Linked DNA regions of Homo sapiens. The protein of the gene in region 3 interacts with the protein of the main gene of each other region in a biochemical or structural test. Each region holds a gene or a part of one and is shown on either strand. Other genes may lie near its edges. The genes, in order: RRAS, MRAS and RALGDS.

Region 1 (7,117 bases), on a different chromosome or scaffold from region 3:
CGGGGTGGGGAGAGGATAGTTACTGCAGTGCCCCGGCAGACAGGACGAAGCCCTGCCCTTGGGATGCCTCTCTCAGTCTCTGTCCCTCTCTCTCTAAATGTCTGTCCCTGTTGCTGGGTCTCTGCCCCCTTTTCTCTGGGTCTCTGTCCCGTCTGTCTCTCTGAGTCTTTTTTTTTTTTTTTTTTTTTTGAGACGGAGTTTCGCTCTTGTTGCACAGGCTGGAGTGCAATGGCGAGATCTCGGCTCACTGCAACCTCCGCCTCCTGGGTTCAAGAGATTCTCCTGCCTCAGCCTCCCAAGTAGCTGGGATTACAGGCATGCGCCACCACACCTGGCTAATTTTGTATTTTTAGTAGAGATGTGTTGGTCAGGCTGTGTTGGTCAGGCTGGTCTCGAACTCCTGACCTCAGGTGATCCGCCCGCCTGGGTCTCCCAAAGTGCTGGGATTACAGATGTGAGCCACTGCGCCCTGCCCTGTCCTTCTCTCTCTCTCCAGATGTCTGTCCTTGTTGCTGGGTCTCTGCCCCCTTTTCTCTGGGTCTCTGTCCCCTCTGTCTCTCTGAGTCTCTATTACTCTCTCTCTCTGGGTCTCTGTCCCCTTCTCTTTGGGTAGCTGCTCCCCTGCCCCCCTTTCCCTGCCCCCCACCCCTCCTACCAGTCTTCTTCTCTCTGAGTCACTCCTGGTCCTCTCTTTCTGGTATAAGGTACATGTCCCACATCGTGATTACATCCTAGCTGTGTGACACTGAACAAATCACTTCCCCTCTCTGAGCCTCAGTTTCCTCATTTGAAAAAGGAGGCTAAGAACAGCACTACACTCCATCCAGCACTGGCAAGATTCGGAGCAAAACCCCATTAAATATTGAATGTATCAGTTATCGGAGGCGTTGTTGTCCAGACTGCCTGTTTATATCTCTCCCTCCTCTTCTGCTTCCTCCCTCTCTTCCTCCTCCCCCGTCTCCTCCTCCCCCGTCTCCTTCTCCTGCTCAGGCGGCCTCCAGCGTCTCCTCCCAGGGGAAGGTCCCGGTTCCAATCCGGCTGCGGAGAGGCTGCCCCACCCTCGGGCCCCAGCCCCTCCCTTCCTGCCTGGGTCCTGCCCGCTGCCAGCCAAGCCTTTGGCCAGCTCTGGGACTGCCTCTGGGTGCAAGGGGCCCAGGGCTGGGGCCTTTCTCTACACAAGCAGGGCTTCCTCCCAGGCCCTTGAAGGGGTCTCTTGGTGGGGGTGAGGGGGGTGTCCTGGGGCCCCGGGGCCTCTGCGGTAGCATGTCAGGCCAAGACACTTTTCTAGGATTTCTTTGAAGCTGGGAGGACCTCCCTCAGGAATGGGGAGGAGGTTTCCTGGGCTGGGGTGGAATTTCAGGAAAGGGGGTGATGTGGAGGCTAGGGGTCTGAAGGCTGCATCTGTCGGTTAGAGGGGTGCTTGGTGAGGGGCTTGTCCTGGAGGGAGGCTGTAAGGATCAAGCCCTGGGAGGGATTGTGGCTCTGGGGGTAGTTAGGGGCGTGACCTCAGAGCACAGCGTGAGAAGCTCAGGGCTGAGAACTGGGAGCCAGCCCGGAGGTGGCTCAGGGGTTTTGGGAGGTTATAGTATATACAGTCTTAGAAACATTGAGTTCATTTATGGGGTCAGAGAAACTCCCAAGGAATAGATCTTTCTGGGGGTGCCAAGAATCTGGGGGCTTCTTCCATGGAGATGATTTGAGAGCTATTCAGGGTTTCTGAGAGGGGCTCAGGGAGTTGCAGCGGAGAAAGCATGGGATGGAGGAGGGGCTGGTTTTCCTTGGGGGTGGGGTGGGAGAGTGGAGGTTTGGGCCTCCGGGAATGGGGGATTGTCAGGACTTGGGGTCTTGGAGATTTCTGGAATGGCCAAGGGGCAGGATGTCTTTTTAAATCTCGGGTCGGAGAGCAGGACTCTCTTAGGACTGGGTAGTCCCAGAAGAGTCTCAGGGCCAGGGTCTGGGTAGAATTTCTAGATTCTGGGGGCAGTCATGGAAGGGGCTAAGAATCAAACGTGGGGCCGGGCACGGTGGCTCATGCCTGTAATCCCAGCACTTTGGGAGTCCAAGGCAGGCCGATCACGAGGTCAGGAGTTCGAGACCAGTCCAATATGGTGAAACCCCGTCTCTACTAAAAAATACAAAAATTAGCCAGGCATGGTGGCACTCGCCTGTAGTCTCAGCTACTTGGGAGGCTGAGGCAGGAGAATTGCTTGAATCCAGGAGGCAGAGGTTGCAGTGAGCCAACATCGCACCACTGCACTCCACCGCACTCCAGCCTGGGTGACAGAGTGAGTGAGACTCTGTCTCAAAAAAAAAAAAAAAGAAAAAAAAGAATCGAACGTGGTGGAATCTCAAAGGTGCTGGGCACTGGCATTCTCCCAGGAAGGCTCTCAATGGCTTAGAGGGGAAGTTGGGGACTGGGATTTGGGGGAGATAGGGCTCAGGGTGGTGGAAGGTGGCACCAAGGGCGTGGTGGGGGTCCTGGGAGTGCTTAGGGTCCGAATGGGGTGAGTATTTTGTATTTAGCATGCTCCCAGGAGGTGCTCAAAGCCAGGTCAGCAGGTAAGCGGGGTCTTAGGCACTGGGAGAGGGAATAGTGGGTCTCGGGATGCGAGTGCAGAAGGAAGGGTCCCCCGTGCAGGGGATGGAGGCTCTCCAAGAGTTTAGGTTACAATCTGTGGGGATCTTTTAAGATTAGAGGGCCTTATAGGAGGGTCTCAGTGATGGGTCAAGGGGGAAAAGGGGTCTCGGGGATCCCCCCAAGGGCTCAGTTCTGGGTCCCGGGGGACACCCTCCCGGGTGAGGGCCCACTACCTGGATGAACTGGATGGTCAGCGCGCTCTTGCCCACGCCGCCGCCGCCCACGACCACCAGCTTGTGTGTCTCGCTGGGCGGGGGGTCCCCGGGCCCAGGTCCCCCGCCCCGGGGCCGCCCCCGCCCTGTCCCGGACGCCGCCCCGCTGCTCATGTCGCCACCGCTGCTGCTGCCTTCGCTACCGCCTGCGGGGGAGCCGGGCGGGACCCGGGGGGGCGGGCTACGCTAATGAGGCTACTGCATAATCATGAGCTCTGGCAAGGAGGGCTCGCGTCTCCGGACACTTAAGGAGGGGGACGGGCCAAAGAAAGGGAGGAGCTATGTTAATAAGGGAAAGGGAACGGCGTTCGCTGCGAAGGGGAATTCCGAATGAGGCGGGGCTATGCTAATGAGAGACCTGTGCTTTGCCCTGAGCGGCGCCACGCGCTCTCAGCGGGAGGGCGGTCTGTGGGCGTGGCTATGCTAATAAGAATTTATTCTTTCAGCAGACGGGGCGGAAAGTTCCTCAGGGGAGGGGCTATGCAAATAAGGACCCCTGTGACACTGCTGCTTGGGGCATCGTCTCCGAGGCCTTAGTATGGTAGGCGGAGCTCGTCGACTCGCGCGCGCGGCCGTATATAGGGCGCTCCGAGGAAGCAGCAGGTTTTGAGGAGTAGCTCCACCTCCCTCCTGGGATCCTAGCCAAGCTTTCGACCCCGGCGTCTGGGTTAGAAGCTAGAGTCTCCGCCCGCTAAGGGACCCAGGCTTCCGGTTCCCGCTGTCCCAGCCAAGCGGAAGACAGACTGGGAGGAGAGTGGGGCCCTAGAGGGGGACAGCAGGGTAACGGGGCAGGGAGGGGCCGTGAGATCACTGCATTCCTAATCCATGAGCCAGCTCGCCCAAGTAGGGATGCCTGGGTCATGAAGAGCCTGGGGCCAGGATTTCTGGGTCTTGAAGGAGAAGGAAGCAGAGGGCCCAGACTCCTGGGTCCTTAGGAGAAAATGGGGCTGGAGATGTGGACTCCTGGGTCCTGGGGAGGAGGGTGTCAGGGAGGAAGGTAGACAGGTTCCTTCGTACTAGGTTCGGTAAAGGAGGGAGCCGGGGGCCTGGACTCTTAGGTCCAGGAATTGGAGAGGCTGGGGACCCAGGATTCTGGATCCGAGCGAGGGCACTGGCTTGGGGGGACCCGAATTCGTATGTGAGAGCTTGAGACCAGGACTAGTCTGGGAGACCGACTCTTGGATCCGAGGAAGGAAGAATCAGACTCCTGAGTCGGAGGGAGGAGGGAAATAGGAGTCTGGACACTGCTCTGAGTGAGAGGATTCGGAATTCAGACTTCTCTGTACTGAACGAGGCGGCTATGGGGTCGGGCTTCTAGGTTCTAAGTTTATTTTTATTTGTTTATTTTTGAGACGGAGTTTCCGTCTTGTAGCCCATGCTGGAGTGCAATGGCGCGATCTTGGCCCACTGCAACCTCCGCTTCCCGGGTTCAAGCGATTCTCCTACCTCAGCCTCCCGAGTAGCTGGGATTACAGGCGTTAGCCACCACGCCAGGCTAATTTTTGTATTTTTAGTAGAGACTGGGTTTCACCATGTTGGTCAGGCTGGTCTTGAACTCCTGATATCAGATGATCCGCCTGCTTCGGCCTCCCAAAGTGCTGGGATTACAGACGTGAGCCACCGCGCCTGGCCTATTTTTATTTTTTTAGAGGCGGGGTCTCCCTATATTGCCTAGGCTGGCTTCTAACTTCTAGGCTCAAGCCATCCTTCCGCCTCAGTCTCCCGAGTGGGACTACGGTGTGCGCCACTGCATCCCGTCTGGTTCTAAATTTAGGGGGGCCTAGAGGATCTGGATTCTGAGAGCCCCAGAATGTGGGCAGCACAACATCCAGCAAGTCGTGCTCACTCCGCCGGACTACAATTCCCTTGCGTCTGTTCTGCCTGGCGCCTCTTACGTCACCTCCTGTTCCGCCACCCTTTCCGCGCGCGCGCAGGGCACTGTGGGGCGTCATCGCGGGCTACCGCGGCCCCGCCCACTTCACCTCTCACCCCATTAGCTGTCCCCGCGCGACAGAGGCGGTGCGCGGACTACGCCTCCCGGCGTGCATCGCGCGGACCCCGCCCCATGTGTCCCATTGGCTTCTGGGAAACCGAGTGCGGTTGCCTTCCCGCCGGCCTTCACGTCGCCGTGCTCGGTACTTGAAATCCCGGCAAGCTCGGCGGCGCTTTAGCTCCGCCTCTCTCCTCCTTTGCTCACGAACCCCGCCCCAGCCCGCCCCGCCCCGCGCCGGGGCCGGAGCCGCAGCCCGAGCGGCGGGGTAAGATGGCGGCGGCAGTCCGGGCCGCGGGGCTCGGGCCTATTGGGGTGGGCGGGGCGGAGTTGGGTCGCTAGTTGTCCCGGGGTCCTCCCCACAAGCCACGGGTCCTAGAGGGCTTCTCGGGGCGGTCTCGGGCCCGGCAGCTGCGGCGAAACCTGGCGCCGAGAGGGGGGCCTTCTCAGGGCCCCGGGACGCATCCGTGGGTTCCTGGGGGCGTCTATGGGGCGTCTCCGAGAGGACTTGGGGCGTCTCTGGGCCTAGACCGAGCCTAAGGCCTGCCCTCCATCACACAGCTGGCCTGGATCGTGTCTGTAGACACTGTAGATTGTCTTTTTGGGCTGACCGGAGGCTAGGGTCTGGTTAGAGGGTTCTGGGGCCATCTTGAGATCTTGAGATATGTCCCAGGGGTGAAGGAGGGTCTGCAAGACCTGAAGAGTATCTTCAGAGCCATCTAGAGGCCTGGGGTATGTCTTTTAGGGCTGGAAAGTGTCTGCATGGGCTGGCCTGAGGATGCAACTGGTCTGCATAAGTCTGGGGCCATTTATCAGGCCTAGAAGGAGTGTTCAAGGGCTAAGAAGTCATTTAGGGCCCCCTAGGGGGTTGGGTTATGCCCACCAGGGAAGGGCGCCAAATATTGAGATGTACTGAGGGTCTGGGGTCTCCAAGGTATGGGTAGTGTCTAATAATGGGTGACAGGAGGCTGGGGGCAGTTAGAAGGACCTGGAACCATCTAGATGGCTTTAATGTGACTGCAGGAATGCAGTTTTGATGCCTGGAGCAAATTCGAATGCCTTTGGGGTCAGAGCAGCTTGTGGCGAATAATAATACGGAAAGAGAATGAGGAAATTTTGCCCAGCTTAGATATACTTGCCCTTCAGACAGTAATTCAAATGAAAAATGTTTTAAGATTCTGCATTACCCTGGGGGTTATTGAGAGAGTTAGAATTAATCTACATTAGTCTGGAAGAGTCTGGAGGGTCATCTAGACCCACTATTACAGTGCTTTTCAAGGGGAAACCTGGGCCATGTTGACCGTGATCTGCATTAAGATACATTTTTTCATTGAGACCTGGTACAGACAGTCATAATGTATTTAACATTATATAACATAATGTATTAACATTAACTCACCTTCCACGAATTGACATTTCCACTTACTACTTGTGCTGTGCTGTGAAGAACTATTTTGTTCTATTTACTTTTTAAAACAAGCTATTTGTGAAGCACTAAACTGGTATATGACCCTGTTGTTGGGGAAACCACTGATCCAGATAGGACCTAGCAGTATCTGCAGAGCATTCTTCTGTTCAGAAGATCTCAGTAGCTGAGGGTGTGTCTGCGAAGCCTGGTGCTTTCTAAATGAGCAAGCAAGCATCTTTGTATACTGCAGAGGGTTTGGGGATCCCTCAGCCTGTAGTCAGCAGATGTTGATTAAGCTTCTGATATGTGACAGTCACTGTTGTAGGTAGCATGTGCTTCCCCGGGAGGTGCTGGAGAGCAGTTCCAGGGCCAGGAACTGGGGCTGAGCTTATTGAGTATTGGTGAAAGAGGCTGGGATGTAATAGACTATCAGGGTTGGGTGTGTCTTAGGAAGTTAGGAATTAGGTGGAGCTGGGAGGCTGAATATGGAGGCTTGGCATGGTTTGAAAATCTATATGGGATCTAGAACAGGACCAGGGCCTTGTCTTTGCAGGCATGCTGTGGGGGAAGCGAGGAGACAGATGTAGGGGAAACCTGGGCGTTAAGGGCTAATAGTGTCATTCCTCTTCATCCGTATTGAGCACTTGAGGTGCTCTAAATGTGTGGCAGAAGTCAGGCTTTGAGTATTCACAGCCATTCTCTGAGATAGATGCTCCTATTTCGTGCATTTACAATTAAGCATACTGAGTTGTGGGTTAGGGATTTTGAAGCTTTCTAGGAATTTTGAGATTGGATATTGTCTTATGAGTAGCAGATTTGACAGTCATGGGGAAGCTTACAGCTGAAATATTCATATTTTTCTGAAGCCC
Region 2 (7,138 bases), on a different chromosome or scaffold from region 3:
GGATGTGAAAGATGAACCTCCATGCCAGCCCTGCTCAGACCACTGCCCTCGTGTTAACCTGTACAAGTAGAGTTTAGTGGCCAAAAAGCTTATTTGACATGGCTTTTGGCTATACTTGCTAAACAAGACCAGTGGTACTGTGTCCTCAACACCAGGCCTGGCACATAATTGGTGTTGAATAAATGATGGTTGAATAAATCACTTTAACAGTGGACTGTCTCTGGCTAGTGAGACCAGGGGTAATGCTTTTATTTTCTTTTGCATTTCTTCATTTTCAAACCTCTTTATAATTGAGAGTATTACTTTATAAAGGAGGAAAACATATGAATATTTTCCCCTAAGTTAAAAAAGCCCTCTGTCTCATTCCACATGTCTTGCTGCCGCAGGTCTGACCTACGAGAAACATGGCAACCAGCGCCGTCCCCAGTGACAACCTCCCCACATACAAGCTGGTGGTGGTGGGGGATGGGGGTGTGGGCAAAAGTGCCCTCACCATCCAGTTTTTCCAGAAGATCTTTGTGCCTGACTATGACCCCACCATTGAAGACTCCTACCTGAAACATACGGAGATTGACAATCAATGGGCCATCTTGGACGGTGAGACCTGGGTGGCAGCCCTGCATTGGGTGGGATAGTAGATGGGGAGGATCAGGGAAATTTGACAGGTTTCAGTGGGGCAAGATGGTTTCCTTAATGTTGCTGTTATGGGATGGTTGATATAAAGCCGTGTGTCGTTTTCAGGGTGAATTCTCAACAGGGAAGGCCTGCGTAGAGGGCTTGCAAGATTTCGTGGAAACCAAAATGTGCATTCAGCAAAGAGGGGAGGCTAGAATCATGCCAACTCAGTGATGTCATGTGTGTTTTTTCTTGCTGATCAGAATCTCTGATTAACAGTTATGGATGTCTTTAGCTAATAAAAAAGGGAAAAGCAAGTTGTTTCTTAATGAGCATAGTTTACTTGGTACTTGTCCTTTGAGGGGAATCTCTTGCATCTGACATTGTGTTTCTAGCTGAGTGTGAATTAGTCTGGATTACTAGTTCTAAGTGTGGCAGCCAGGCCAGCAGTAGCCGCAGCATCAGGAAACTAATTAGAAATGCACATCCTCAGGCCCATACTGATTTGGAAATTCTGAGGGTGGGCCCAACACCCTGTGTTTTAACACACCCTCGAGGAGATGCTTGAAATCAGGGAGTATTAAATCTTCAACTTCGTTATTTTTCAAAGTTGTTTTGACTGGTCTAGGTCCTAAGGTATTTCTATGTGAGTTTTAGCATCAGTTAAATTCTAAAATTCTAGATTTTGATTGGGATTGTGTTGAAACTGTAGATCTGTTTGAGGAGAGTTGATATTTTAACAATGTTGAGGCTTCCAACCCATGAACACAGTATCTCTTTCCATTTATTTATTTATTTATTTATTTATTTGTTTATTTGGGTCTTCTTTCTCTTGTCAGTTTTATTTGTAGGTTTTTTTGTTTGTTTGTTTGTTTTTGGGGGGACGGAGTCTCGCTCTGTCACCAGGTTGGTGGAGTGCAGTGGTGCAGTCTCAGCTCACCGCAACCTCCGCCTCTCGGGTTCAAGCAAATCTCTTGCCTCAGCCTCCCAAGTAGCTGGGATTACAGGCACGCACCACCACACCTAGCTAAATTTTTTTTGTATTTTTAGTAGAGACGGGGTTTCACCATGTTGGCCAGGATGGTCTCGATCTCCGGACCTCGTGATCCGCCTGCCTCAGCCTCAGCCTCTCAAACTGCTGGGATTACAGGCATGAACCACCACGCCTGGCTTATTTGTAGTTTTCAGTGCATAGGTCTTTTACATGTTTTGTCAGTTTTATACCTGTATCTGTATTGATGCTACCGTAAATTATTATTTTTGGTTTTTTATTTCAATTTTCAGTTGTTTGTTGCTAGTATATATAAAAACAATAGGTTTCTGTATATTAATCTTGTAACCTACAACTTTGCTAAACTCAGTTACTAGTTCTAGTATCTTTTTTGTAGATTCTGCTGGATTTTTCTGAATAGACCATAGTGACTGCAAGTAAAGACAGTTTTACTTCTTCTTTTCCAATCTGGATGGCTCTTATTTCTTTTTCTTGCCTTATCTCATTGATTAAAATCTCTGGCATCCTGTTGAAAAGAAGTAACAAGAACAGACATCCTTGTCTTGTTCTTGATCTTAAGGGGTAAGTGTTTGGTCTTTAGCATTAAGTATGATGTTAGTTGCAGGCCTTTTATGGATGGCCTTTATCAGGTCATGGAAGTTCCTTTCTATTTCTAGTTTGCTGAGAGTTTTTATCAGGCATGGATGTTGGATTTTGTCCAGTGCTTTTTCTGTGTCTACTGAGATAACCAAATGGTTTTCCTTTTTTAGTTTGTTAATGTGGTAAATTACATTGATTGTTTTGTTTTGTTTTTGTGACAGAGTCTTGCACTGTCACCCAGGCTGGAGCACAGTGGCATGATCTTAGCTCACTGCAACCACAAAATACTGGGCTCAAGAGATCTTCTTGCCTCAGCTTCCCCAGTAGCTAGGACTGTAGGCACACACCACTGTGCCCGGCTAATATTTTATTTTTTTGTGAAGATTGGGGGGAATCTCCCATTGTCGCCCAGGCTGGTCTTGAACTCTTGGCTTCAAGCAATCCTTCCATTTCAGCCTCCCAAAGTGCTGGGATTACAGGTGTGAGCCACCATCCCTGGTCCTTGATTTTTTTAATATTAAACCAAAATTGCATCCCTGGAATAAACCCCACTTGGTCATGATGTATTATCCTTTAATATTGTTGGCTTTGATTTGCTAAACTTTTGTTTACAATTCTTATGTCTGTGTTCTTGTGAAATATTGGTCTATAGTTTTCTTGTAATGTCTGTGTCTAATTTTGGTATCAGAGTAATGTTGGCCTCATAGAACGAGTTTTATTCAATTTTCTGGAAGAGTTTGAGTTAAATTGGTATTTCTTCCCTAACTGTTTAGTAGAATTCACAAACAAGGCCATCTGGCCCTGGAGTTTTCTTTGTGGGAAGATGTTTTTGTTTTTGTTTTGAGACAGGGTCTCGCTCTGTTACCCAGGCTGGAGTGCAGTGGCATGATCAAGGCTCACCACAGCCTAGACCTTCTGGGCTGAAGCAGTCCTCCCACATATTTTGTCTGTCTGTTGGTTGTTTCAGCTGAGAACGTAAATCTGGTCCCTGTCACTCCATCTTGGCCAGAAGCAGAACCAAATCATGACTTCAAAAAAATACAACTTTGTGGCTGGGCGCTGTGGCTTACAAGGCCTGTAAATCCCAACACTTTGGGAGGCTGAGGTGGGCAGATTGCTTGAGCTCAGGAGTTTGAGACTTGCCTGGGCAACGTGGTGAAACCCCATCTCAACTAAAAATATAAAAATTAGCCTCGGGTGGCTGAGGTGGGAGAATCACTTGAGCTCAGGAGGCAAAGATTGCAGTGAGCCGAGACTGCGCCACCTCACTCCAGCCTGGGCAACAGAGTGAGACTCCCTCTCAAAAAAACAAAACAAAACAAAAAAACTTTGTAAATATGTTTTAAAAGCACTGAATTATATACTTTTAAAGTATTAATATTATGGCATGTAGATTGTATCTCAATTTTAAAAAGCACCGTCCTCCAAGGGTTTGTCTGCAGCCCTGGGACTTTGAACAATTTGAACAGGTACCAAGCACCTTCCCATCTTGGGACTTTGCATTTTGTCTTCTCTCTGCCTAGAACATTGTTCCTGCAGAAACACTGATTTCATTTAGGTCTCAGCTCAAATGTCACTTTATCTAAGAGGTCTTCCCTGACCAAACCATTGACACTAGTATCCACCCCACCCCAGTCATTTCTATGCCCAACTCTGTTCTTCTTTATTCTGCCTTTTATGGTTGGACATATTTTATCTTTGTTTGTGTTTTTGTCTCTGCTGACTAAAATATAAATGTCTGAGAGCAGGGACTTTATTTACTGACTGCATTATTCCTAGCATCTAGAATACTGCTTGGCTCATAGTAGCTCCCCAGTAAACATTTGTGGAATGACCAAATGAAAGAATAAACCTTGAACAATATATGTGTAGTGAAAGGTTTGATGTGCTAGCTATATTATTTTTTTCTAACTCACATTACAATAATAAGTATATATAACTATTAAAATTAAAACTTACATCTGTGCACTTTCTAAAATCATTTCATGCATCACCTATTGGAATATATGGCACACTTTGGGATATACTGAGTTAAATAAATGTAAACAAGTTTCTTCACTGCAGGACTTACAAGAACTTTTAACATGCAAACACATATTAGAGGTGTAGTGATAGGATACATTGTCCTTAGAGCTTCCCACAGGGGTCATTTTTTGCACGTGATTCTGAACTATGTTCCATAGAGAACATTCTGAAACACATTGCATAATGCATGTAAGAAAGTAACACCATGCCTGGTACATCGTTGGAACTCAATCAGTATTTCTCTCTACAGCCATATAAACTTCTCTGACTTTTTCCTGAGTACCTTTGGATGTTAAATTGGTTTCTGAGGAAAAATGTTTTCCTCAAGATTGAATGTTTTCCTCAACATTTATAGCAGGAGCAGCAGGGAGAGGGGAAACATGGCCGCAGCATTATATTAGAAGTGTGCATTTGCAAAGCCTGTGTTCTGAATGCCTGGGCTCTCCATGGCATTACTTTAGAAGAATGAGTTTGTTAAGCTTCTAATTCTGCCACCAGAGTCAGGCCCGATTTAGGGCATTGCCCACCCAGGCCTTCCTCGGGAATAGACACCAGATTCCCAGATTAGATGCTTCTCCACTCCATTAGATCTGCTATTAAGAAAAGGAAGACTTGGCCGGGTGCGGTGGCTCACGCCTGTAATCCCACCACTTTGTGAGGCCGAGGTGGGTGGATCACGAGGTCAGGAGTTTGAGACCAGCCTGACCAACATAGTGAAACCCCGCTTCTACTAAAAATACAAAAAAAATTAGCCAGGCCTGGTGGCGCCTGTCATCTCAGCTACTCGGGAGCCTGAGGCAGGAGAATTGCCTGAACCCAGGAGGCGGAGGTTGCAGTGAGTAACTCTGAACCTTTCTGGGGCTGAACTTTTCTGGAGTGGTCTGCACCCCTCAGATGGCCAGGACTTCCCTGGGCATCTGGATCCCAGGGGTCCTGCTCCCCTGAGGCCATGCCATCTTCGGGGAGGTGCTAAGCCTGGAGGTGCCCTCAGTTGCCCTGTACCCCACTGAACTCCAGGGGATCTCAACTCTGCAGTTTCTCTTCTTCCAAACTCAGAAAGAATAAAAACGTGGCAGCACGATGATGAGGAGAAGGAAGAGAATGATAATTTTGATGACGGGGTATTGAATGGGCAGAAACTGTGTGGAAGGCCCGTGCTAAGCACATTGCATTTGCTGTCTTTGAATCCTTACAAATGCTATCGTGGTAGTTGCTGTTGTTATTTCTGTTTTATAGTTGAAGAAAATACAGCAAAAGTTTCACACAACCAGCAACAGTTTGAGCTACCTGTTGACTCCTACCCACTGTCAGTCTGGTTGTGTAGGAAAATCCTCCCCCACAGCACAGTGGATCCTTGTGCCTCTGGGAAGGGGAGCTGAAGTCCCAGGAAGAAGTGGGTGTGGCTGAACTATCATACCTCTTCTGCCCTTCTTACTCCTCACCCAGGGTCCTTCAGAGAACCAGGTGCTCCGGTTGTGATCTCAGTCTCACGTCAGAGATTTGCAAGCTGCTTAAGGAAGCCTTCTCTGTGACTTCCACACTGATTATTCTCACAGGCTGCCTGCTTTCTTGCAAACCTGTTTCTTGTTTTCTTCCAGGAAGTCACATTGCCTGTGTCCTCCCAGAACCTAAGAGACAAGAGCTGGCTGGCCTCAGGGGCCAGCAGCCAGGCTCTCCTGTGGCTGTGGGACCCCCAGGCTTTGGAGCAAGCCTGCTCTGAGTTCTTTCCTGCAAGGGTTCGGGATCCTCATCTCACTTTATATTGTCAAGGGCCCAACCCTCGGAGCCTCTCTTCCTCCCCGTCTGGTCCCTGCTTCTCCACTGTGGGGTTTGCTTCGGCTGTCCCATCTCCATGCTCTCAGCCCTCTCCTCCTGTCTCTGACTTTGGAACACCACCTCACCTTGGCTTTCAGCTGTGTGACTGCCCTCACCCCAATTCTCTCTTGTCATGAATCAGGAAGCCCCAAACCTTCGGCAGAGCCATAGAGTTTTGTGTTTGTTTGTTTTATTGTGATAAAGTGTACATAACATAAAAGTTACCATCTTAACCATCTCTAAGTGCATAGTGCATTCACTTTGTTCTACAACCATCCCTGCCATTCATCTCCAGAACCTTTTCACCTTCCTCAACTGAAACTCTGTACCTATTAAACACTGACTCCCCATTCTCCCCTCTCCTCAGTCCCTGGCAACCACTATTCTGCTTGCTCCCTTTTCTTTTATTGATATCATATTCATACATATTTTGAGGGCATGGTAATGATCAAATCCAGGTAATTAGCATATCCATCACCTCAAACATTCTTTCTTTGTATTGGGAACATTACAATTCTTCTCTTCTAGCTATTTTGAAATTTGCAATGAATTATTGTTAACTATAATTTCCCTACTGTGCTATCAAATACTAGAACTTATTCCTTCTCTTTGTATTTCTGTACCCATTAACCAACTTCTCTTCATCCCCCCACCCACACACCCTTCCCAGCCTTTGATGTCAATCATTCCACTCTCTACCTCCATGAAATCCACTGTTTTAGCTCCCACATATCAGTGAGAGCATGCAATATTTGTCTTTCTGTGCCTGGCTTGTTTCACTTAACATAATGACCTCCAGTTCCATCCATGTTGCTGCAAATGACAGAATGTCTTTTTTTTTTTTTTTTTTTTTTTTGAGACGGAGTCTCACACTTGTTGGGCAGACTAGAGTTCAGTGGCACGATCACTGCAACCTCCCCCTCCCGGGTTCAAGCAATTCTCCTGCCTAAGCCTCCCAAGTAGCTGAAATTACAGGCACCTGCCAACACGCTCGGCTAATTTTTGTATTTTTAGTAGAGATGGGGTTTCACCATCTTGGCTAGGTTGGTCTCGAACTCCTGACCTCAGGTGATCTGCCCACCTCGGCCTCCC
Region 3 (7,138 bases):
GGGAATGATTTAAATACTGACACCTTCAGGTCCGTTGTTAGCTGAGTAATGGTAGCTGCCCTGTGGGAAGAGCGTCATCTGAGAGCTCTAACAAAATATCCCCATTCTAGAGATGAGGAAACAGAGGCTTATCCAGGGGCTGGGAGGGACTGGCCCGTTAGGACGCACAGCATCTTCCCCGTGGCACTGTTTTGTTTTGTTTTGAGACAGTCACCCAGGCTAGAGTGCAGTGGTGTGATCTCGGCTCACTGCAACCTCAGCCTCCTGGGCTGAAGCAATTCTCATGTCTCAGCCTCCCAAGTAGTTGGGATTACAGGCACACACCACCATGCTTGGCTAATTTTTGTATTTTTAGTAGAGATGGGGTTTCACCATGTGGGCCAGGCTGGTCTCAAACTCCTGACCTTAGGCAATCCTCCTGCCTTGGCCTCCCAAAATGCTGGGATTACAGGCATGAGCCACTGCGCCTGGCTCCTGCAGCACTGTTGAAGTGTCCTCAGAGGACTCACAGTGGCCCCACAGTCATGAGGAGCTGAACTGGGGCAGTGGCTCCAGCCTCCCTTCTGGAATATTATGCAGCTGAGTCAGGCCCCGGCTCTCAACCTGGAGGAACCCCAGGGATGTGTTCTGGGAGATGGCAACTTGCAGAGACCTAACAGCCTGAAGCCCTTTTGTCCTTGGGTGAAGACAGCCCCACTACTCCAGATGGTGTGCACATCTGGGAGAAGGCATGGAGGATGGTGAGGCTGATGGCTGCACACCCGGGGAAGGGAGGTCAAACATGAAAACCCGATTAAGCCTGGGCTGGACAGTGGGGGTCGGGAAGGGAGTGAAGGCCGTTTCCTTTGGGATCAGAACTGGGGGCCCTCAAGTGAAAAAGTCCTGGGAGGGATCCCCAGCTGCGTCTCCCAGTGGAGACCCCGAGCGCACTCACCCCGAGCCAGCGCTGCCCCTTGTTGCCTCCGTGGTGCAGCTGCACCTTGCGCAGGGAGATGGAGTAGATGACTCCGTTGATCAGCTCCTCACCGATCTCCTGCGTGGAGCTCTGTGAAGACAACGCCCGGCAGCCGGGCGCGGGGACGTCAAGGGCCTGCCTGGCCACCGTGCAGGGGATGCACCTGTGTAACCTGTTTCCCAGATAGGGCACAGACTGGCGGCTGCACAGACCTACAGCCTGGGGTGGAATGAGATCACAGCTCGAGAGCCACTGTCCCGGCACTCCACTTCCCCAACCCGGCCAGCCACGACCTGGGACGTGATTATGATGAGTCCACCAGGCTTCCAATCCCCTAGTAACTGGCTTCTGCTCCTGCCCAGGACAGACCCACCCTCAAGCCATCCCCTTCCACACAGGGGACTGTTATTCAGCCATTGCACAGATGGGTAAATGGAGGCTGAGAGAGGAACAACTGGTCCAAGGTCATGCTGCCTCGGGTAAGTGGTGAGGCAGGGACCCCAGGGCTCTGACACGGCTGACTGCATCCAGGCGGCTATGCCCCAAGAGAAGGTCCCCCTACCTCCCCAGGGCCAGAGGCCCATGGGCATCCTCACACTCACCCCTCCTCTACCCAGCCTGGGGGGCCCTGGCTGACCTAGCAGGAACGCACAGCTCCTCTGGGCCCAGCCCTGGTGCGTTGGCAGCCCAGGTCTGGGCAGGTGTGGGGCACCCCAGACAGCCACATCCCAGCCACTTCCTTCCCCTCTGCTCATTCATGCCCTCGTGCCTGCTTGGGCAATGGGAGTTCCCAGTTCCCTGACCATCATCACGTGAGGGGACGGGTGTGAGAGGTGACGGTGCTGGTATCCAGGCAGATGCTGGGGTTCCACAGAGCCCTAAACCACAGGCCTAGACTGGAACAGGAAGGGGGCATCTGGCCCCAGGCAGTAAGGAAAGGCCGTTGTCTTAGGAGACAGACTTCCCCCACCTGGCAGGCTGGCCTAGGTCACTTAGCCACAATTACCCCCGGCCTCACAGCCCCCTATGCCACCTGCTCTGTCCAGGGACGGAATGAGCTTGCAGCGGGTAGAGGAGCCGGGGGGTTAAGGACATCAACCTCAGAGGTTAGGAAGGAGCTAAGAGGTACTGGCCTGGCCCAGGGTCATTAACCGCCCAGTCAGTGCCCCAGCCCAGGTAGGCGTGGAGCTCAGAGAAGGCCTGGCAGACAGTGCTGACTCAGGCCCTTCCCTCAACCCCAGCAGGAGCCAGGTAGACTGTCCAGCATGCTGTGGACGGGACCCTGGCCTCCTGCCTCCTGCGCACCCTCAGAGGCCCAGGAGCCATCCTGGAAGTCCACTTCCTCCGACCTGAGGTCGCCTCCCACGCTGGGCTTTGTACAACAGGAAAGCTGCGGGCATTGTGCCGGGCTCCTGACCGCCACCGCCTCTGGACAGAGAGCCAGCCCCATTTCTTGGAAGTTAGCAGGGAACCCACAGGCACACTCACACCCACACCCCACAAACAGCCCCGCCAGGGGAGGTCTGGCCCTTCCACTGACAGGAAAAGAGACATACGCTCACCCCCCTTTTCCTGACTCACACATCTCTCCCCTGCCTAGAAAGTTGTTCCTTTGAAAAGAAAAGCATTAGAGGTTACAGCGACCAGGGCCCCCAACCACCCGGGCCTCCTCAGGGGTCCCAGACTGCCTCCTGTGAAGGCCGTTGGCTCAGCTGGGAGTCTCTCTCTCTCCCAGGGATTTTAGCCACATCTGGACCAGCTGGGAGGCAGACAGTATCCTGAGTGTCCAAGTCACCGGCAGTGGCTCTGAGATCTCGTGCAGGACAAGCCCGCCACAGGGGACTAAACATTAACCCTGGGGGAGCCCAGCACAGCACCCAGGTCCTGGCTGAGCACCATCAGTGCCTGCTGGACAGAGGTGTCCCCAGGCAGGCCAATCCCCAGGAGGGGCTGAAGCCAGGTGGCCTCGGCTGTCCCTGAGCAGGTCTAGAGAGCGGCTCCTCCGTGAGCTGGCAGGCCAGCAGCTGGCCCAGCCCTGCTTGGTGTCATGTGATCCCTGCACCCTTCCCCCACCCCCGGGGGGCCCTCTTCTGCCAGCCGGGTGGTGGGGAAGGATGCAGGCCCAACACTGAGAGCCATGCATGCTTGGGGTAAGGGAGTTGCCACCCTGTCACACAGTCGGGGAGACGCTCTAGCCCGCGTGGAGCTGGCCTGTCTTCTCTGGTCGCTTCCCGTCACAGCAGCAGCAGGCATGGAACCAGACCATAGAGCTACGTGGAGTACAGGGGCTGTTTAAACCATCTGCTCAGATGGTGGAGGTGCAGGCTCCAGAGAGAGCTGCCCTGGGGTCTGGGAACAAAGTGGCAGAGTAAGGCCTCTATCCCTTGCCCCCTCACAGGACAGAGAAAGAAAGCAGCCAACAGCCCTGGCAGCTGCCCCAGAACCCTCTGCAGCAAGAAAGGCAGGGTTCCAGCACCCACAGGCCACCCTAGGTCACTCTGTTAGCAGACAGCCCATCTGGGCAGCGCCTGGGCCCCAGGGCACTCTGGCCGGGCTGGGAGCTCAGAGCGGGAGGAGCAGGAACGGCCTAGTGAACAGCTGATGCAGAGAAAACGCTTTCCCCTGAGGGCAGGTGCCCAGGCAGCCGCTATGAGCTGACTGCTAGGAGGAGAAAAGAACACCACGTGCTTGGCTGTGTCCTCAAGGGACACTCCTGTCCCACCCCTAGCAGGCATGCTGATGTCCCTGGGCTCTGGGACCCAGTCGGCAGCTGTGCCTGTAAACACACTGTCTGGCCTTCTAACATTTGGGTCAGTGCAGTGAGGGTGGCATGGGGTCCCCGGTGAGCAGGGGCCCCCACACCCCAATGTCTCCAGGGACACAGCCCAGAGCCCTGAAGATGAGGATGGGAAACAGGGCCTGGTGGTGTCTGGTGAGTGTGTCACCTGATCAGCCTTCTCAGAGTGACAGGCCAGCAGGATGCCGTGTCCCTGGCTGACAGAAGGAGGAAGCCACAGGCCAAACCCAGACTCCCTCTGGGTAGAATAGTGAGGGTCTTGAGGAACCCTACGGGGCCTGCCCCAGCCCTGCCATCTCCCCGCTCAGGCCAACGGCACCTCCTCCCAGCATCAGCCTTCTGGTGCAGCTCCGGACTCAGACGCCTTTCCTTGGAAACCGTAGCTAGTGGCCCCCTGCCCCATGGATGGCTCCAGGAACTCACCGGCCCCTCCCAAGGAGACCTGGCTGAGGGCTGAAGCGGAGTGAGGAGAGGGCTCTAGCCTGCACCTCGGCCTGCTCCGCCCCTGGTCCTCCCCGGGCCTGTGTGTGGAAAGGCTCACGGCAGAGCCTCCGTGTGCGTGAGATTGTCCTGGGGGACCTCCCAAGCCCCTCTGAGCTGCTGCTCAGGTCCCAGTCACCAGAGGTCACCCCGGGGTGCTTGCCACCCCCCTGCCAGCACCTCACAGTTCTGGCCCACCAGACAGCAGCTCCCTGTCTCTCGCTGGCTCTGCCCAGCCCCTGGCCCTCGGCCTTGGTGTGTCATCTGGGGAGGGCAGCACTACCTGTCACAGGCAACAGTGGGGGTCAAGAGAGAATGCACACAGCTCGGTGACCGGCACTGGGACCTGATGGCGTGGTACCGGACAACACCTGACATCATATCCCCCTGGGGCCGGCGACGGATGCTGGGCTGTAAAAACCTGAGGGAAACTTGTCTGAGGCCTGCCTAAGGCTCAGGGACCTAGCCGAGGGACACTGTAAAGAGAGGCTGAGTCACCCTGAAACCCAGTGGGTGGGAGCAGCTTTCTGACTTCAGCTTTCCGCTCCAATACAGAAGCCAAACGTAAAACGCATCACAGAAGGCTGCTCGCTCTCTACAGAGCCCAGGCTCCTGCGACAGTGCGGGGCCCACGCTGCTGTGCCCTTCTCCGTCCTACAGAGGTGGGGACCCATGCCCGAGGACAGGAGCCGGTGGGGCGTGTGCTGGCTGAGCCAGAGGTGAGAGCCCAGGACTTCTCAAGTCATGAGCTCGGACCATGAGCCCCATCAAGGGAGGTGGAACGCAAGGGCCTCGTGTCCGTGTCCGTGACCCTCCTGCCCTCGGGCCTGCCCTCCAGCTCCAGGTGGGTGGACCCAACCCTGATCCCCAGCGCACAGACAAAGCATCAAGATGACAGGAGGCCAGCCCGGGGTGTGGGTGGGCCACACTCCTGATCCTGGGCATGGCAGCCCACAGAGGCGGCCTCAGACCGGGACGACACGCGGTGCCTGCCCACCAGGATGCTCCCTGGCCTCAGAAAGTGGAGGCTGGGAACCAACCAGTGCTGAGCCCCGCAAAGGCCGGCCCATCTCTCCAGAAACCCTCCCTGCCGGCCTGTGCCCTGCTACTCACTGATGGGAAAATCGTGCCTCAAGCAGGAGGAGGGAGAACCAGACCTCCAGGTCAGCCGCAAGCCTTGGGCATCCAGGGTCCCTGTCCACGCCCAGCCCCTGACAGTCAGGTGAACACAGGGCCAGGCCCGGGAGGGGCGTGGCTGGTGGCAGCTGAGGAGGAAGGTGGGCTGGTCCCAAGGGGGTGCAGGGCAGCCCCAACTTTAACCAGCTACAGTGCCCAGCACATGCGGGCACTTCCTGGGTGCAAGGCCCTTTGGACACCCATCACGTTTAATCCTCCTAACGCCCTGCCTGATGGACAAGGAAACAGCCTGAGAGGAACTCGCCCAGGTCAGGAGCCAGGACGTGGCAGCCAGAACAGGGATTTGAACCCTGGCCTGTTGGGACCCACCCAGGCCTGGCGCTGCCTCTGCCATGGTCTCAGGCTTGGAGCAGAGTCCAGCCCCTTGTGGCACAGATGTGGAGGAGGGGCCAGAGACAGGAAGGATTTCCTCAGGTCACACAGCAAATTCGCAGGGGAGGGTGGCAGGGCCAGCTTTCTAGCACCTGCATCTCCGAGAGGTTTGTGGACGTGCCCTGGGCAAAAGGCCTACAAGACACCAGGCCAGGGAAGTGCCATGCTGAAGGTGCCAGGTGACGCACCCGAGGAGCCCAGGGCACTTGGAAGGGTCAGGCCGCTCCCCTGGCACCTAATCAGAAAACCTCATTGTGGCAGCTGCTACCTGTCCACTGTGCCAAGTGCTGTGCAGGCTGCTCCTCAGGTCTCTTGTCTAACTCGAGGGTCCTCACCAGAACCCTAACAGGAGAGCTGGCATCATGTCCATTTTACAGATGAGGAAACTGAGGCTCAGGAGCACGTCTACATCTGCTAGGGGGCTGAGCTGGCATCCCAGCATAGCTCTCTTCTCTCCAGAGCCCAGGCTCCCTGCCCCTCGGTTGAGATGGACAAAAGTCTCCAGGAATGACTACAGGGGAGGCTGCCAAAGCATGCAAGCTTCCCCATGGAGGAAAACGCCAAAACCCTCCAACGCAGGTGTCCTGCCCCGCCCGCCAAGCCACTGTTGGGCTGCCATCCCACTGCCTCCCCCGCCCGTGGGCAGCCAAGGTGTGCGGAACTGGGAGAATTGGGTCTGCTCAAAGCTCAGCTTGTCCTGCATGAGGCTGCATGCATCAGTGTCTGCCCCTTAACAATCAAATGGGGAACACTGCTCTGCTGTTGCTGTATATCTGGGAACACAGTGATTCTGGGCCTGCAAGGCTGGAAGTCCAACCCTGGGACTGGGTGGCCACAGCATGGTGGCACCACGCCATGGGAGCCATCTGGGCGGCCAACCAGCAGCTCTTGGGAACCAGTCCTTGACTGCCTGGGTGCAGCTTCCTGAAACCGCTCCACTGGCTCGTTCAGAGCCTGCCTGCAGAGGGCCAGTGATAAATCTCCCCACTCTTTTCTCATTGGCAACGCAGACAGGTCCTGGAAATGCCCAATTTCCAGGTTAAGAATCAGACCCCAGCTCTGGCAACGAGCAGCTTGATATCTCCCAGGGCCATTCCTGAGCCTCCCGGGAAACAGGCCAGCATGCCTGAGCATCCCCCGCCTGGAGAAGGAACAAAGACCCAGGACCAGCCAGCCTGGTCCCCCTCTTCTGGGGGACCCTCCCGAGTAGAGCAAGAGGGGAACCTGAGGGTCCTGGGGGCTGCCCCTTCAGAGTCACCCAGGAAGCTCTCCTGGAAGACCACAGTCTGTACACATGCATGCAGGGACACACACCCACACAGGGACAGGCCCTTTGC

Evidence for each region.
Region 1: the proteins of RALGDS (region 3) and RRAS form a complex in vitro, tested with the Homo sapiens proteins (one study listed by BioGRID).
Region 2: the proteins of RALGDS (region 3) and MRAS form a complex in vitro, tested with the Homo sapiens proteins (one study listed by BioGRID).

Annotation. Positions count from the first base shown.
Region 1 is NC_000019.10:49,637,135-49,644,251, forward strand, and holds the start of RRAS (ras-related protein R-Ras), read right to left. Parts: upstream 3,010-7,117; 5' UTR 2,965-3,009; coding exon 2,812-2,964; intron 1-2,811. Other genes in the region: SCAF1 (splicing factor, arginine/serine-rich 19), read left to right, coding at 3,389-3,391. UniProt on the Homo sapiens protein: GTP-binding protein with GTPase activity, likely involved in the regulation of MAPK signaling pathway and thereby controlling multiple cellular processes. Regulates the organization of the actin cytoskeleton.
Region 2 is NC_000003.12:138,372,480-138,379,617, forward strand, and holds part of MRAS (ras-related protein M-Ras isoform 1 precursor), read left to right. Parts: intron 1-386; 5' UTR 387-404; coding exon 405-597; intron 598-7,138. UniProt on the Homo sapiens protein: Signal transducer in the Ras-MAPK signaling pathway that regulates cell proliferation and survival. Core component of the SHOC2-MRAS-PP1c (SMP) holophosphatase complex that regulates the MAPK pathway activation.
Region 3 is NC_000009.12:133,111,108-133,118,245, forward strand, and holds part of RALGDS (ral guanine nucleotide dissociation stimulator), read right to left. Parts: intron 1,046-7,138; coding exon 935-1,045; intron 1-934. UniProt on the Homo sapiens protein: Functions as a guanine nucleotide exchange factor (GEF) activating either RalA or RalB GTPases and plays an important role in intracellular transport. Interacts and acts as an effector molecule for R-Ras, H-Ras, K-Ras, and Rap.